Regions from separate parts of the Homo sapiens genome. Here region 1 is linked to region 2. Evidence: fine-mapped QTL for protein levels in blood plasma. A gene starts in region 2. The other region holds a variant in brackets. All regions are shown on one strand. Distances are between the middles of the regions. Region 1 overlaps CA6 (carbonic anhydrase 6). Region 2 holds the start of CA6 (carbonic anhydrase 6).

Evidence for each region. PIP is the posterior inclusion probability: the model's chance that the variant is causal. The UK Biobank Pharma Proteomics Project read protein levels with antibody pairs (Olink). The fine-mapping took linkage between variants from a reference panel, not from the people measured, so its PIPs are less certain.
Region 1: its variant is fine-mapped to the plasma level of the CA6 protein (UK Biobank, PIP 0.93).

Annotation. Positions count from the first base shown.
Region 1 is chr1:8,968,502-8,977,246 of GRCh38, reverse strand. It overlaps CA6 (carbonic anhydrase 6), which reads right to left. Exons shown (of 8, transcript NM_001215.4): 7 at 6,266-6,380; 8 at 2,155-2,625. The coding sequence ends at 2,543. Among named protein-coding and RNA genes, the nearest start is that of CA6, 27 kb to the right of the region's middle. The variant C/T (reference allele first, on the strand shown) is at 7,767.
Region 2 is chr1:8,940,879-8,949,698 of GRCh38, reverse strand. CA6 (carbonic anhydrase 6) reads right to left here and starts at 3,831. Exons shown (of 8, transcript NM_001215.4): 1 at 3,734-3,831; 2 at 257-436. The coding sequence starts at 3,812.

The sequences.
Region 1 (8,745 bases), 28 kb before region 2:
TATCTGGTGGAAAGAATGAATCGCACCGTGTCGTTCCCCTGTGGAAACCCTGCAGTCGCTGCCGTCACCTACAGGGTAAAATCCGAAACCCTTTAGTGGCACAGAAGATACCAGTGACGGCCTGACCTGCCCTGGCCACACCCCCGCTTTCCGTGCCAGCATCCTTGAACTTGGTCCTCTGACCACGCCAAATTGCTTCCACTTCCCCAGGTGTCTTCCCATCAGCACATGCCACACTCTCGGGTTACAATACCCCCGCCCCTCTCTGACTTGGTTTCCCAGGTGAACTCTTTCTCAGCCTTCAAAACCCAGGCCAAGCACTTGGATTTTAAACACAGGCGCTCCCTCCACCATGGGGCGATATGGCGATTACTTATTTTAGTGTCCACTCTGCTCACCAGACCCGAGCTGTAGGAGTGTGGGAGCTGTTCTCACCCATCCCTGAACCCCCAGCACCTAGTGTTATGTCAGGCTCAGAGCAAGTGCATAAGAAAGCTTGTTGAGAAAATGAAAGGGAGGCTTCCTATGGTTAAAAGAATGTGGATACAAAAGACTTGGGTTCAAATCCTGGCTTTTCATCTGCCACCTAGGAGATCTTGGGCAAGTCGACGTCTTGGTTTGCTTTCTGTAAACTGGGGATAATGCAAGTTCACTGAAGGTGGCCTTCGGGGCTGAGGGCAGTCACGTGTGGTGGAAGTGCTTAGGATATGACAAATAATGACATGGAAAAACAACAGAGGTAACAAGAGCAGAAGGAATTCAGAAGAGCCAGGGTGAGCTCAATCAGAAGTGAGGAGGAAGCTAAGGCATGGGAAGGAAGGGGCATCGATGAAGGGAATGCATAAGTGACCAAGAAAATTGGTAGCAGCCAGGTGTGGTGGCTCATGCCTATAATTCCAGCACCTTGGGAGACCAAAGGTAGGAAGATCACTTGAGCCCAGGAGGTTGAGGCTGCCATGAAGCTAGGATCACCACTGCACTCCAGCCTAGGCCACAGAGCAAGATCCTGTCTCAAAAAACATAAAAATAAAAATAAAAAATATGGGTCACTCTTCTGGGTACTTCTCAGTGTTATTTAATGATAAAAAAAATATGGGTCACTCTTCTGGGTACTTCTCAGTGTTATTTAATGAAGCCACAGCCCTATGAGCCCTGTGAGGTCATGTTATCATCCCACATAACTAATGGGATGCCTGAATCTGGGTCTGGTAACAAGGACCAGGCACCATTTGACCAACAAGGGGGTTTGCAGTGAGGTCCCCTCTCTTCTTTCCTTCTGTCCTGGGAGCCCTTCTTCTTTCTCGTCTCCTGTTTTTTCTTTGACTCACAGCCACTGCTCCAAACTTCCCCACTGACAAATTCTCAGTGTAAGAATCTCTTCCTAGGCCAGGGGTGGTGGCTCACGCCCGTAATCCCAACACTTTGGGAGGCCGAGGCAGGAGGATCACCTGAGATCAGGAGTTTGAGACCAGCCTGGCCAACATGGCAAAACCCCATCTCTACTAAAAATACAAAAATTAGCTGGGCGTGGTGGTGCACACCTGTAATCCCAACTACTTGGGAGGCTGAGGCAGAATAATTGCTTGAACCCAGAAGGCAGAGGTTGCAGTAAAATTATACCACTGGATTCCAGCCTGAGCAACAAAGCGAGGCTCTGTCTCAAAGGAAAAGAAAAGGCCAGGCGCGGTGGCTCACGCCTGTAATCCCAGCACTTTGGGAGGCCGAGGCGGGCGGATCATAAGGTCAAGAGATCGAGACCATCCTGAGCAACATGGTGAAACCCCGTCTCTACTAAAAATACAAAAAATTAGCTGGGCATGGTGGTGCGCAACTGTAGTCCCAGCTACTCAGGGAGGCTGAGGCAGGAGAATTGCTTGAACCCAAGAGGTGGAGGTTGCAGTGAGCCAAGATTGTGCCACTGCACTCCAGCCTGGCAACAGAGTGAGACTCCATCTCAAAAAAATAAGCAACAACAACAAAAAACACCTCCTTCCTTTTTATTAATCTTAGTCTTGGAAATCCCTCCCACTTTGATCTCTATCCCTTCACCTATGTGCGGTTGTGGGGGAGTAGGGGGAGGAGTGGGGGGAGGAGTCGGGGGCGGGCAGAACAAAGAAGGGATATTTGAAGTAATACAAAGGAATAGGAAAGAAATTTTTAAATGACAAATTTCCAAAGTTATTTTATTACATCTAATGCTAAAGGAAAGGTCAGGCTGGTTTATAATTCAGACAGGTCAACATATATGATTTGATGGGAGAATAGTTAGGGTTCCATTTCCTTTAAGTTTCTATTCCAATCAATTTCCACTGGTGATGTCTAACTCAGATCCCGTCTCATGAACTGAAGCCATCTCACTTCCTGTCCAGGATGATCGTTTCCCCTCTTTTAATCAGAATCCCAACAGCTGCCCCAGGGGGAGCAGCGTGTTCCAGACACACATGGTTTCTTAGACAAGGTAGGGTGCGGCTGCAGCGGACAGGCACTTCTGGCTAGGTCAGGCTTCAAGCTAGTTAATATTGAATCTTCCTCTTAGCTTTCCTCAGTTCAATGCTCTTCTTAAGTAGTCAAGAATTTCCTCAATCTTATGTAGGTAAAACTGGAATTCAGAGCCTAGAGTGTATTCTGTAAAAAGAAGAGTTAGTCGGAAATGGTTAAACCTTGTACAGTCCTCACAAAAACAGAGAAGGGGGACGGCCAGACACCATACCCGCATCGTATTTTTGGGAAGTCTTTTGATTCCTTAGAATGCTCTCCACGTGCCCGGTGCATTGCCTTTAGTCATCTTCACTGTGTTTGAACTCAGGCTTCTAAGCTGCCCAGAGCCAAGGGGTGGCGTGTTGAGGTGGGCTGTACTCTTGGATTTTGGCTTCTCCCACGATGCCCCCCGTGGCCCTTGCCTGAGGGGATATAGGCGTTTTCTAGTAAATAAATCGCAAGAGGTCCGTATTTGGCCATCGTCTTGTTTTTGTAACTGACCTTGGTTTCTCAATTCACTCCTTGCAGGTGGGTTAATCATATCAACCCCGCTGGGATACAGTTCTCTACAGAACAGTGAAATACCATGAGTCACGCAGCTGGGTTGACCACAGCCAATCACTGCTACATAGAAATCTGGGCCTGGCCAGGCGCGATGGCTCATGCCTGTAATCCCAGCACTTTGGGAGGCTGAAGTGGGTGGATTGCTTGAGCTCAGGAGTTCGAGACCAGCCTGGGCCACATGGCCAAAGCCCGTCTCTACAAAAAAATACAAAAATTAGCTGGGTGTGGTGGTACATGCTACTCCCAGCTACTTGGGAGGTCGAGGTAGGAGGACTGCTTGAGCCCTGGAGGTCATGGCTGCAGTGAGCCAAGATTGCGCCATTGCACTCCAGTCTGGGCAACAGAGCAAGACTCTGTCAAAAAAAGAAAGAAAGAGAGGAAGAAAGAGAGAGAGAGAGAGAGAGAGGGAGGGAGGGAAAAGAAAGAAAGAAAGAAAGAAAGAAAGAAAGAAAGAAAGAAAGAAAGAAAGAAAGAAAGAAAGAAAGAAAGAAAGAGAGAGAAAGAAAAATCCAGGCCTGAGGGAAGGTGGGCCAAGATGATGCCCAGTTGTCTGTTCTATAATCAGCAAAGGGAGGCCACAATTCGGGTTCCCTGGGGGTAAGGAAGCCCTCTGATGCTGAACTGGGAGTTGAAGTAATCGATCCTAAACAGCGATTCTTAGTGGACCTACAGACAAATCACAGCATGGAATACCTCAGTCTGGGGCCGGTACCTAGAACATCTGACCCCCTCGTGAGGAGATGCTAGAGTGACGCTGTAGTGGAAAAAGCATTTCAGATGTGGCAAATAGAACGATACGCAGTCTGTTAGTGACTATTGCAAGAATAGCGTAAAATTGTTTTAGGGAAAGCAGGGGAAATATGGCAACATTTAGACCTAGGAGACAGGCCGGGCACAGTGACTCACACCTGTAATCCCAGCAATTTGGGAGGCCGGGCAGGCGGATCACCTGAGGTCAGGAGTTCAAGACCAGCCTAACCAACATGGTGAAATCCCATCTCTACTAAAAATACAAAAATTAGCCTGGCGTGGGGGCGCGTGCCTGTAATCCCAGCTACTTGGGAGGCTGAGGCAGGAGAATTGCTTGAATCTGGGAGGCGGAGGTTGCAGTGAGCCCATGAGATTGCACCACTGCACTCCAGCCTGGGCGACAGAGTGAGAGACTCCAAAAGAATTAGGAGACAGACCCATGAGTCTAAGCTCCCTTTGGTCAGCCTGCTTGCAATTGGACCTGTTAAAGACGACATCACTTTCGGACAAAGGGATTCTTGCTGTTAATGTTGTATATGGTATAATATGGGGAAATGATTACTGTAACTGATGTCAGTTTTTTTCTTCTGTTAGTATTGTATTGGAGGAGTGAATTGTATTTCAGGAAACAATATAGAAAACACCTATATCCTCTGTTAATTCAGTAAGTGAACCAGGAAGGAAAGGTGGGGAGAAAATCACAAATAGGCCTTATTCGGGTTGGGGAGGTGGAAATTTAATTTTTTTGTTTGTTTGTTTGTTTTGGTTTTTTGAAACAGAGTCTCTCTCTGTCGCCCAGGCTGGAGTGCAGTGGCGCAATCTCGGCTCACTGCAAGCTCCGCCTCCCGGGTTCATGCCCAGCTACTCAGCCTCCCCAGTCTCAGCCTCCCCAGTAGCTGGGACTACAGGCGCCCGCCACCTCGCCTGGCTAATTTTTTGTATATTTAGTAGAGGCGGGGTTTCACCATGTTAGCCAAGATGGTCTCGATCTCCTGACATCGTGATCTGCCCGCCTCAGCCTCCCAAAGTGCTGGGATTACAGGCGTGAGCCGCCACACCCGGAGGAAATTTAAGTTTTAAAAGGTACATATAAAGATGGGATAAGGCCGAACGAGGTGGCTCGTGCTTATAATCCCAGCACTTTGGGAGGCTGAGGGGGGAGGATTGCTTGTGGCCAGGAGTTTGAGACCAGTCTGAGCAACATAGTAAGAGTCCATCTCTACAAAAACTACAAAAAAAATTAGCTGGGTGTGGTGGTGTGTGCCTGCAGTCTCCGCTACTGGGGAGGCTGAGGTGGGAGGATCACTTGAGCCTGGATGTTTGAGGCTGCAGTGAGCCGTGATTGTGCCACTGAGCTCCAGCCTGGGCAACAGACTGAGACCTTGTCTCAAAAAAGAAAAAAAAAGTGGGATAATATTGAGTACACAATATTGATAGGATACTGATTCTACTGTATTGGAAAATATAAAGGTATCAGGAATGGTTAACAGAATGGGCTGTAAAGACAATGGATTCACCACAACTTTACAGAAAGCAGACAAAATAAAGATGAGGAGGCTGTGAAATATTTACACTCTTGCCAACACAGAAACGAGGTGAGCCAAGGACACGGTTGGAGCCTGATCCAAGGAACTGGAGGATGCAGCGGAGGCTGGCCTGCCCGCACCTGCTTCCAGCACGCTGGGGTCTGGGGCCTGCGCCCCAGGCAGATGCAGGGAACAATATGTGGTCTAGTTAACTCCACTTTGAGAGAATGTATAGGAGGCGTTGGGGGTGGGTTCATAACACAGACTATGATCAAGATGCGCAGGAAATAATCTGGGTGGGGTTAATAAGGTTAACTTGGCCAGGCACGGTGGCTCCCGCCTGTAATCCCAGCACTTTGGGAGGCCGAGGTGGGCAGATCACCTGAGGTCAGGAGTTTGGGACCAGCCTGGCCAATATGGCAAAGCCCCATTTCAGTTAAAAAAAAAAAATTAGCCGGGCGTGGTGGTAGGTGCCTGTAGTCCCAGCTACTGGGGAGGTTGAGGCAGGAGAATTGCTTGAACCCGGGAAGCAGAGGTTGTAGTGAGACGAGATTGCACCACTGCACTCCAGCCTGGGTGACAGAGTGAGACTCTGTCTCAAAAAAAAAAAAAAAAAAGGTTAACTTGAACCTACACTCTTGTGAGAGCTTCCGGATGTTGTGGTCTTCTTGCTTCTCCTGCTCTCTCTAGCCAAGACTAGGTAGGTAATAAATCACGTAGCTGTCGCTTCTGATTGTCTCGTGTGTTCTACTCACTGGCATCCCTGCCTGGACTGGGAAAAAGTCATCACCCTCTGCCCAAGCCCTGTGCAGCTTGGCCCACCTGAGCCTCTTGCTACTGAAATGACTCTCCTTCCCTTATATCACCAGAAGAGATGGGTCCACCTAGAGGAAGGAGCAAAACAGGAGTTAAACTGCAGAGCATGATCAAGAGTCGGTCTCACTCACCCTGATTCGGGAAGTTGGATTCCACCACTCTGTGGTTCAGGGGCTGGGTCCTGCGGTAATCGTTGTGGATGGTCTTGTTGCGGTGATCCAGTAAGGAATTCTCCAGCTTCCAAACCTGGGGGCAACGTGAGTGCATTATGGAGGGGAAGAGTCACTGGGTAATTTAAAAGAAATAACAGTTGGCCCGGCGCAGTGGCTCACGCCTGTAATCCCAGCATTTTGGGAGGCTGGGGCGGGCAGATCACTTGAGCTCAGGAGTTGGAGACCAGCCTGGCCAACATGGTGAAACCTCTTCTCTACTAAAAATTAGCTGATCATGGTTGTGTGCACCTGTAATCCCAGCTACTCAGGAGGCTGAGGCAGGAGAATCGCTTGAACCTGGGAGGCAGAGGCTGCAGTAAGCCAGTATCACGCAACCGCACTCCAGCCTGGGAGACAGAGAGAAACTCTGTCTCAAAAAAAATAAAAAATAAAAAAGAATTAACAACTGGGCTAGAGTTTGGATTTATATAACCCTGATGAAGTGACTGTAAGAAGATCTCAAGTCCAGGGGAGGTTCTGGGTGCTGTGTCTCAGGCATTATTCCAGAACTAATCTATCCGTGCATTCTTCCAACAGGTATCTGCACACAAGCTCTCTTTTCAGCTTTTTATATGAGTATTTGTCCAGTAGTAGAAAGGAGAGAAAGAAGAAGCAGAAATATATCAAGTGGCAAACTCAATTTTTGTTTTTCTGAAAATGTCAGGTTTTTCTCTTTTTTTTTTTTTTTTTTTTTTGAGACCAGAGTCTCGCTCTGTCGCCAGGCTGGAGTGCAGTGACGCGATTGCGGCTCACTGCAACCTCCACCTCCCGGGTTCAAGTTATTCTCTCCTGCCTCAGCCTCCTGACTAGCTGGGACTACAGGCACCCACCCACACACCCAGATAATTTTTATATTTTTAGTAGAGATGGGGTTTCACCATGTGGGCCAGGCTGGTCTCAAACTCCTCAGGCCATTCGCCCACTCAGCCTCCCATAGTGCTGGAATTACAGGTATGAACCACCTCACCTGACCTGAAAATGTCTGTATTTTGTCTATATCCTTGAAAGGCATCTTTGCTGCACATACAATTCTATATTGGCTATTTTTTTTCCCTCGGCACTTTGAAATTATGTTTCCACTCCCTTCTGACTTTCACTGTGGCTGTTAAATCAACTCTCTGTCTAATAATACTCTTTTCATGATAATCTGTCTTTTCTTTCTGGCTAATTTTTAAATAGTTTCTTTGTCTTTGATGATTTCAATGTGATGCGTTTACTGCAGGATGTTGTGTATACACACACACACATATCTACACACCCAGAGAGAGAGAGAGACAGAGAGAGAAACTAATTGGCATTCTTGAATATATGACTTGGTATCTCTTCCTGAAAATTGTCAGCCAATATTTTGTCAAATCATGCCTCTTCCCTACTCTGCCTCTCTTCTCCTTCTAGGATTTTGATTAGACATTTACTAGAC[C/T]TTTCCAGTACACAATGTCTCTTCACTTCTTTTCATAGTTCCATCTCCTTTTCTCTGTGCTGCATTCTAGATAATGTTATTGGCTGTCTCCAATTTACTAATTCTCTCTCAAACTGTATCTAACATGCGTTAAACCCATTCATTGGGTTTTTGTTTTTGTTTTTTTGAGATGGAGTCTTGCCCTGTTGCCCAGGCTGGAGTGCAATGGCATGATCTCAGCTCACTGCAACATCCGCCTCCTGGGTTCAAGCGATTCTCCTGCCTCAGCCTCCTGAGTGGCTGGGATTATAGGTTCACACCACTATGCCCGGCTAATTTTTTGTATCTTTAGTAGAGACAGGGTTTCACCATGTTGGCCAGGCTGGTCTCGAACCCCTGACCTCGTGATCCACCCGCTTTGGCGTCCCAAAGTGCTGGGATTACAGGCTTGAGCCACCGTGCCCAGCAAACTTTTTTTTTTTTTGAGACAGGGTTTTGCTCTGTTGCCCAGGCTGGAGTGCAGTAGTGCAATCTTGGCTCACTGCAACCTCCACGTCCCAGGTTCAAGTGATTCTTCCACCTCAGCCTCTGGGGTAGCTGGGATTACAAGCGCCCCACCACCACGACTGGCTAATTTTTTGTACTTTTAGTAGAGACGGGGTTCCACCATGTTGGCCAGGCTGATCTCAAACTCCTGACCTCAGGTGATCCACCCACTTTGGCCTCCCAAAGTGCTGGGATTACAGGCATGAGACACCACAACTGGCCTGGATTATTAATTTTTGATACTATTTTTCCATTTCTAGAAATTCTATTTGAGTTTTTGTCCCAAGTCTGGATGTCCATTTTTATACTTTTTTGCTCTTTTCTCATATTTAAACCTTTTATTTCTTTATACATGTTAAACATTCTTATGTCATATTAATTGTCTGATAATTCCACTAACTGAAGTCTTTGTAGGTCTGATTCTGCTGGTTCTCATCTATAATGTCTTTTTTTC
Region 2 (8,820 bases):
GCTCGGGTAAGAGGATAACGCTGCAGGAAGGGACCAGCAGGGAGTTGAGTCGAAAGATGGATGCTGCCCTCTCTGGAAGAGCCACTAGGTTTCGGGGCCAGTCAGCCCTCATGTTCGACCCTCATGTTCGAGGCCTCCAGCTCTGAGGCCGTGCTCTGTGTCTCTGTGCAAGCCATTCCTGGCAGGGACACGTGTAACCTGCCTTCCCCTGCAGGCTGCCCATGGACTGGAGCCCCTCACCACCCCTTCCTCTTACCTGTGTGGCCATTGTTGACCATGGGGAACTCCCCTGCCTGGGTCTCATAGCCTGTCATATTGAGCCCCTTCAAGGAGGGGTTGTACCGCACCTTCGTCCTCTGTAGGTTGATAGGCGACTGTCTCTGGCCCCCACAGGCGGGGTAGTGCTGTGGCCAGTGCGCTTCGTCCAGTGCCCCTTCTAAGACAGGAAAGACACAGTTCAAGGGGCTGCCTGGCTGCGCCCACTCTGGAGGAACCTCACCAGGCCAGAGGCCAGAGGCCAGGGCCTGCTGGGCGGGGACCCACGGAGGCACCTTCCAGAAAGCAGAAGCAGGTCCCCCAGAAGGAGGCCAAAAAGACAACGAGGTCAACTCCAAGGACTCTGGTGTTTGGGGGGCTTTGGTGCTAACCTCTAACTTTCCTGTGGCAACTGCTGGCCCTGGGAGCAAGACAGTGTTTTGAAATCAATGGAAGTCTTTTTTTTTTTTTTTTGAGACAGGGTCTCGCTGTGTCACCCAGGTTGGAGTGCAGTGGTGCAATCTTGGCTCACTGCAACCTCTGCCTCCCAGATTCAAGAGATTATCCGGCATCAGCCTCCGGAGTAGCTGGGATTACAGGCATGCACCACCACGCCTGGCTAATTTTTGTATTTTTAGTAGAGACGGGGTTTCACCATGTTGGCCAGGCTGATCTCTAACTCCTGACCTCAGGTGATCCACCCACCTTGGCCTCCCAAAGTGCTGGGATTACAGGCGTGAGCCACCGTGCCCGGCCTGAGAGTGTTTTATACGTAAATTTTTGCTCTCGTTTGACTTATTTCCAGCTGGTGAATGCATGGAGGGATCCTTGGCTTTGCTCTTCCTGTGCTGCTCCTGGGGCCTCTTCCTCATTTCCTCCCAAGGGCCCAGTTGTCCTTCCATGCCCCCAACAGGAACACAGCCCCCACCTCCCCATGCTGCAGGAACCCCCCACCACTATTTTCTTGCTCCAGCCCCTTTTATGGATTCCCGTATGGTAAAGACCATCTAGGTGTCTACACTTATGGATTCAGGGAAACTAAGGAAGCATCAGGTTCCAGGACAACCTAGAATGAGTACTTTTTTAAAATTCATAAGGAGAAAGTTTATCTTTTCAGAGAGGGTTGATAATCGTAGGGGACAGAGTAACATAGGTGAGTGATTATCATGGTGACTTGGCTCCCATACAGCTGTGGAGCTTGGAGTCAGCCATGTGACATGGAGAATCCCACCTCTGTTCCCTGTTCGGGGGTAGCTGTGTGGTGAGTACACAGCTTGTTTTAAGACAGGTGTTTGTGGCTGGGCACGGTGGCTCATGCCTGTAATCCCAACACTTTGGGAGGCCGAGGCGGGTGGATCACCTAAGGTTGGGAGCTCGAGACCCACCCTGACAAACCTGGAGAAACTCCATCTCTACTAAAAATAAAAAACAATCAGCCGGGCATGGTGGCACATGCCGTTAATCCCAGCTACTTGAGAGGCTAAGGCAGGAGAATCACTTGAACCCAGGAGGCAGAGGTTGCGGTGAGCCGAGATCGCGCCACTGCACTCCAGCCTGGGCAACGAGAGTGAAACTCTCAAAAAAAAAAAAAAAGGTGTCTGTACTAGGGCCCTCACCGCTTTTTGGTTTGTAATCAAGGCAATTGGCCTGGAGCACAACGCCTTCTCAGAGCAAGATGCTTTGGCCCAGGGCACTGTCAATACTGGAACATCTCTCAGGTTTCCCTGGAAGGCATTTACAAAAGCTACTCTCAAGTTCTCCTGGAGCCCCTAGTAGTTTCCCAGGAAGCCCACTGTCTCAGAGGCTGGGCAGAGCCTGGGAAGGACAAGGACTTCATTGTCTGAATTCTCTCTTCCTTCACCTCTGAACCACCTGCCTGCACTGCTTGGCCAAGTGAAGCAGAATGCCCCAGGCTTCCGAGGCACTGCCATGTGTAAGATCACTGTCCTCAGGAACAGAGCGGTTGTTCAGAGCTGGCTGGACTTTCTGAACCTCCCAGGATGTCCCTAATTCCGTTGCCCTTGACTTAACAGATCATCCCGTTCACCCTGAAGGAATGCTTCCGGAGCAGCTGAACTGGGGCAGACTCTGCAGGAAGCAGATGTTTGTCTCACTTCCTGCATCAGCCAGCGGCCACCAGCCTCCTCATGGGCCCCAATCCATGGTCCCGTATGGAAAGAAGGGGGATGCGGGAAGAAGCTCTCCTCACTGCCCCTGGAAAGGGCTGTTTAGTGTCCACAAAGTCCACAGACACGGCCTTCTAGCTTTGGCTCACATGTGGACCAGAACCCATGTTGAATGCCAGGATTTTACATTTCACATTTTAAAAGTCTGGTTTGGGGCCTGGCGCGGTGGCTCACGCCTGTAATCCCAGCACTTTGGGAGGCTAAGGTGGGCGGATCACTTGAGGTCAGAAGTTTGAGAACAGCCTGGCCAACGTGGTAAAACCCCATCTCCACTAAAAATACAAAAGTTAGCCAGGCATGGTGATGAGTGCCTGTAATCCCAGCTACTTGGGAGGCTAAGACATGAGAATCGCTTGAAACCAGGAGGCAGAGGTTGCAGTAAGCCGAGATGGCACCACTGAACTCCAGCCTGGGCAACAGAGCAAGACTCTGTCTCAAAAAAAAAAAAAAAACAAAAAAAAAAACACCTCTCATTTTGGCAGCCCACAGATCAAAGGGAACTGGGTCCTTATGTCAAGATGTTCTGGGTAAACTGCCTACCATGAAATTTCCAAGAAAGAAGGTCTCGCAAACCCCACAGCACCTTCCGTGAGGTTACCGAGAGTCTTTTCTAAGAACTTTGTTTTCCACTTACACGGACCAACAAAGCAAATGGTTTTACAAATAGAAGCAGTGAGTGTGCTTTTGAACCAGCCAACACTGTGGATGGAAAAAAATTTAAAGCAAAAAGCCTGTAAGTAAATCAGGAGTTTGTGAAGGGGAAAGCTATTTCCTTCTTTTCCTTATTTGAAGTTTAAGTTCAGCTTATTCTCCATACCTTCTGAGACACTGAAAAGGTAACATCTGAAGCCACAATGAGCAGACCCCCAACATATGGCAAGTGGGCTGCCTGGCCATCCTGTGAAATGCCCTAAAGGAGGACTCTTGGCCGGGCGCAATGGCTCATGCCTGTAATCCCAGCACTTTGGGAGATGGGCAGATCACCTAAGGTCAGGAGTTCGAGACCAGCCTGGACAACATGGTGAAACCCTGTCTCTACTAAAAATACAAAAATTAGCCAGGCATGGTGGCAGGCACCTGTAATCCCAGGTACTCGGGAGGCTAAGGCAGCAGAATCACTTGAACCCGGGAGGCGGAGGTTGCAGTGAGCCAACATCACACTACTGTACTCAAGCCTGGGCAACAGAGCAAGACTTTGTCTAAAAAAAAAAAAAAGAAGAAGAAGAAGGGCACTTGTCCTGTTGTAAGGGTGTGAGGGTAACTGGGGGAGCATGCAGAAGCTAGGGGCTCACCTGAGTAGGTCCAGTCAGACACATGCTGGGCCTGGCCACCCAGCAGGAACAGGGACAGCAGAAGCACCAGGGCCCTCATGGTGCTGCACATCTGTAATGAAGACTGATTCCGGCGAAGCTCTTCTTTTAAAGGCTCAGAAACTGTAAATAACAATTTACAATTGATCTGCCCAGCTGGCTAAACCACCCTTTGCTGCACCCACTAAAACAATAACACCCTCCCCATAACAGCACTTCTGGCTCCGTGCATTGCGCCAGGCAGCCCCAGCACCTGCCTGATCTCCTCCCACGTCAATTTCATATCCGGTCAGTCCATGGGTTTGGTTGTTCAGTGTCTTAGGAACACCTGAAGAGCCACACAGTGCAGCCATTGTGGACAGGTGACCGCGGAAATGGGAAAAGGCCCAAGGCAGGGAGAAGCAGGATGAAAGACTTTCCTGGACGTCGGACTTCCCATGCTCTTTCTCCTGACATTAGAGATCTGGGGACTGCTGATGGGATCACCACTGCCTGCAAACCCTGCCCATCTCAGTCATGGACACAAGCCACCGCTGCAGACATGTGGCTGCCCTCAGCCAGGCATCCAGGGAGGTGGCCTGGCCTCCATGTTTGGACATTTCACGGTCCTCTCCTTAAACCAGTGGTTGATCCTGGGTCCCAGCTCATGAGCCACATTCCAATGTGTGCCTTTATGCCATTCAAGCTGGTGTGGGCGTCTGCATTTCTACATGGATTTGTTCTGACACCTGCAGGGCTCTTGGGCACACCTAAGCCAATCAGCCAATTGCCCTCGCAGGATCCATGGATTACCTAATCCTGTGTATTCACTTGGCTAGACAGTCCCTGAAATTAGCTGAAGGAGAAACTTTTGAGTTTATGCCTGCTGACAGGCCAGCATTTCCCATGCCCTTCCACAAGGTCAAACACAAAGGGTAGCCGGAGCTCCTGCGGGGGGGCTACCATGCTGCCGGACACAAAGGGCCACCCCTGCCTTGTTATGGGGAGCTGAACCCCCTCCTGGCCTAGCTTAACTCATTGTCCACTTGGTCCTGGAATGGCAAACGTCAGCAGGCCTTCACAACAAGGATGTTAGCGGTGAACGTAGGCCTCCCGAATACTTCTAAGACTCCCCACTGTCATTTAATAGGGAACATCAGCTGCTGCAAAGAACTTGCTGGAAACTTCCATTTCTAAAGCTCAAGAGCTGAAAGAATCTCAGAGAGAGAGCAAAGCATGTTCAAGGACAAGGATTCTGAAACTAGACAGGATCTGTGCCACCTGCTAACTGTGTGACCATGGGCAACTCAGCGCTCTGTGCCTCAGCTTTCCTTCCTTTTCTTTTTTCTCTTTCTTTCTTCCTTTCTCTCTTTCTTTTCTTTCTCTCTTTCTCTCTTTCTTTCTTTTTTGAGACAGGGTCTCTCTCTGTCACCAGGCTGGAGTGCAATGATACGATTTCAGCTCACTTCTCTTGGACTCAAGCAATCCTCCTGCCTCAGCTTCCCAAGTAGCTGGGACCACAGTCGCATGCCACTACGCCCTGCTAATTTTTGTACTTTTTGTAGATACAGGTTTTCACCATGTTGCTTAGGCTGGCCTCAAACTCCTGGACTCAAGCGATTCTCCCGCCTCGTGCTCCCAAAGTGCTGGGATTACAGGCGTGAGCCGCCGCACCTGGCCGCCTCCTTTCTTTAAAAGGAGTTAGTGATAGCACCTCCTTTGTGGGGATTCGGCAATAAATGTGCCTGCAGTAGTTGGAGCAGTGCCTGGTGTGTAGCAAATGGCATTAGCATCTATTCAGACCCCTCATTTTATAGGAAAAGGAAGTGATTTATCATTGCCACCCAGCTGGTTAGTGAGGGAACTGGAGGAAAAATGCTTCAATCTCCAGCTTATGGACCATTTCTTTGCAAAAATGAGAAACCTACTCTTCTGTCCTTGCTAAACCAGTGACGCCCACCTGCTGACTCCCAGCCCTGCGGAAAGGGCCACCTTGTAAATCACAAGGCCCCACCTCTGCTGAGGAGACCAAGACCCTTTACAAGCCCAGGCAGGACCCCTGACATCAAACTGGCAGGAAAACACAAACTCAGTCATCTGAATTTTTTCTTGGGAATCTGAATTGGGAGACCCAGAAAGAATCAGGGAGCTGCAGGCAGGCAGAGACTAAAATGTCAGGCTGTCACGGAAGCCTGGGAGGACTGGATGAGCCCAGGCGAGGGGAACTGGAGCAGGAAGGAGCTCAGAGAAAGCCTGGGCCAAGGGGGAGGGGAAGACTGCCCAAAGAGGGGCCCTGGAGAGTCAGAGAGAGGAGTGCTTGCGGGAGAGCACAGTGAAATGCAGAGGGCCCACCACTCCTGGCAGCTCCCAGCCCCACGGGTCTCACTGCCCTGCGGTGAGCATTTGGGGCTTCCCAGGAGAGCTCTGGGGCGTTCCTTGCCTCACACAGCTCCTTAAAATACAGTGCACATACTGCGTCTGTGAAGCTGTGATGCCAGCAGCCCCTCTGCAGAACTGCTGTGCAGCGTATCCACCCATCACATCTGAAGCTTTGCCCTGGTTTTGCCTTTCGCTCAGGCAAGAGCCTGGACTGGCCAGCAACCTGTTGACCTGGCTGGTGTTGAGAATTGGTGTGAAAGTGAGTAATTAAGGCAATACGGGGGTCAGATCAGATGATGGCCTCTTGGAGAAGCAAGGCCATCTGCCAACGAGGGCATATTTCTAGAGAGAGGGTCCCCTCCCTCCGCTGTACAGCACACTGCCAAGGACATACTGGACCCAGAATCAGGTGTGGTCAGTAGTGTTGCCTATTTTCTGACTCCTTGTCTACTTCAAACCTGAAATTTTCCGTCACCTTTGAACATGAGTCTTCTTCTTGGATTTGGGAGGCACATTGTTTGTTTGGGTTTGCTTTTGTTGGTGGTGGTGGCAGTGGGTTTTTGTTGTTGTTGTTTTTGGTTTTTGGTTTCTTTTTTGAGACAGGGTCTCACTCTGTTGCCCAGGCTGGAGTGCAGTGGTGCAATCATGGCTCACTGCAGCCTCCCAGTGCTCAGGTGATCCTCCCGCCTCAGCACCCCCTTCCGCCTCATCCCCTCCAAGTAGCTGGGACAACAGGTGCGTGCCCTATGTGTGCTCTGTTTTTGTTGCTTTTATTTTTAGTGTGTCTCTCTATGCTATGAGCTTCCTTCTGCCTTCATCCAACCATATCCTTGGCTGATCAAGGTTGTTTTTTTAATTCTAAACTCCTATTTTTCTAGGGTCTATGGTTGGATTGGCTGTCGGAGATGAGTTGACAAGTTTATCATTATTACAACATCAGGTCAAAGGGAGAAAGGAGCCTTTGTTCTTCCTTGCTTCTACCACTGCCCCCCCGACAAGGCCCACTGAGGCAAGGAAAAAGAAGGAGGCAGGGAGGCATGGCCAGCCCAGGTGGGCAAGAAGGCACCATCAGCCCAGGTGAGCAGGGACAGATCATGAACCAAATGACTAGGGAGGCACCGTTAGCCCAGGCTGCACAGGACCAGCATAAAAGAATGAGTCTGGCAGGCCAGGCACGGTGGCTCACACCTGTAATCCCAGCACTTGGGGAGGCCGAGGTGGGTGGATCACCTGATGTCAGGAGTTCAAGACCAGCCTGGGCAACATGGTGAAACCCCGTCTCTACTAAAAATACAAAAATTAGCCAGGCATAGTGGTGCGTGCCTGTAATTCCAGCTACTTGGGAGGCCGAGCCATGAGAATCACTTGAACCCAGGAGGCAGAGGTTGCAGCGAACTGAGATCACGCCACTGCACTCCAGCCTGGGCAACAGAACGAGACTCTGTCTCAAAAACAACAACAAAAACAAACAAAAAACAAACAAAAAAGAAAGAGTCTGCCTACACAAGAATATGCTTATTTGGGTGTAAGTAACACAGAAAGGCTATTGTTCTGTTTCATGCAGGAGTGTGAGCTCATCCTGAAGAATGAGTCACTCTGAACAAGTAAGTTCTAGATGGTTACAGGCTCAATCCTATGTAAGCACCAAGATGTTTAAAACCTCTAAAATGTACGGTACAGTTTTAAAAAGATAAAGCTGAATTTTATTAAACTTTTCTTAATGACTGAGTCCCACTAATATGAACATCAATTATTCTCCTGCATTGTAATATATTGATGTCTGCTGGGCCTATAACATATAACATATATATATAATTCTCCCTGCAAGAAACGACCCCTGGCCAGGCACAGTGGCTCACACCTATAATCCCAGCACTTTGGGAGGCCAAGGGGGATGGATCACCTGAGGTCAGGAGTTCGAGCCCAGCTTGGCCAACATGGTGAAACCCCGTCTCTTCTGAAAATACAAAAGTAGCCAGGCATGGTGGCATGTGCCTGTGATCCCAGCTACTCGGGAGGCTCAAGAGGGAGACTCCATCGTCTCAAAAAAAAAAAGAAAGAAAGGAAAGAAATGACCCCTAACTGTAGTTTTTGGATTTCTTTTACCAGATACTGAGAGAGGAAAGTTAGCTAGCTTAATTGATTACTAAAGCAATGCACGTTTATGCTCAGGGGTATCCATAAGGCTGGGACATAACCAATCAGGACAGAAGCCAGACTTGGTGTGGAGGAAAGTCTGAAAGCTCCCTGCTCTGCCAGGAGTTAACCCTGGATTGGTGGATTGTAGGGAGATTGGGAAGTTCTTGGGAAGGGCTGAGCGGCAGGAGCAGCTGGAGGTACCATTGTGTGTGTATTGATTTTGTTTTTCATTGTTTTTTCATTGTTAGCATTTCTTTCTTTTTTTCTTTTCTTTTTTTTTTTTTTTTTTTTGAGATGAAGCTTCACTCTTGTTGCCCAGGCTGGAGTGCAATGGCGTGATCTCGGCTCACTGCAACCTCCACCACCCGGGTTCAAGTGACTCTCCGGCCTCAGCCTCCCAAGTAGCTGGGATTACAGGCGCCCACCACCATGCCTGGCTAATTTTTGTATTTTTAGTAGAGACGGGGTTTCACCATGTTGGTCAGGCTGGTCTTGAATTCCTGACCTGAGGTGATCCGCCTGCCTTGGCCTCCCAAAGTGCTGAGATTACAGGTGTGAGCCACCGCGCCTGG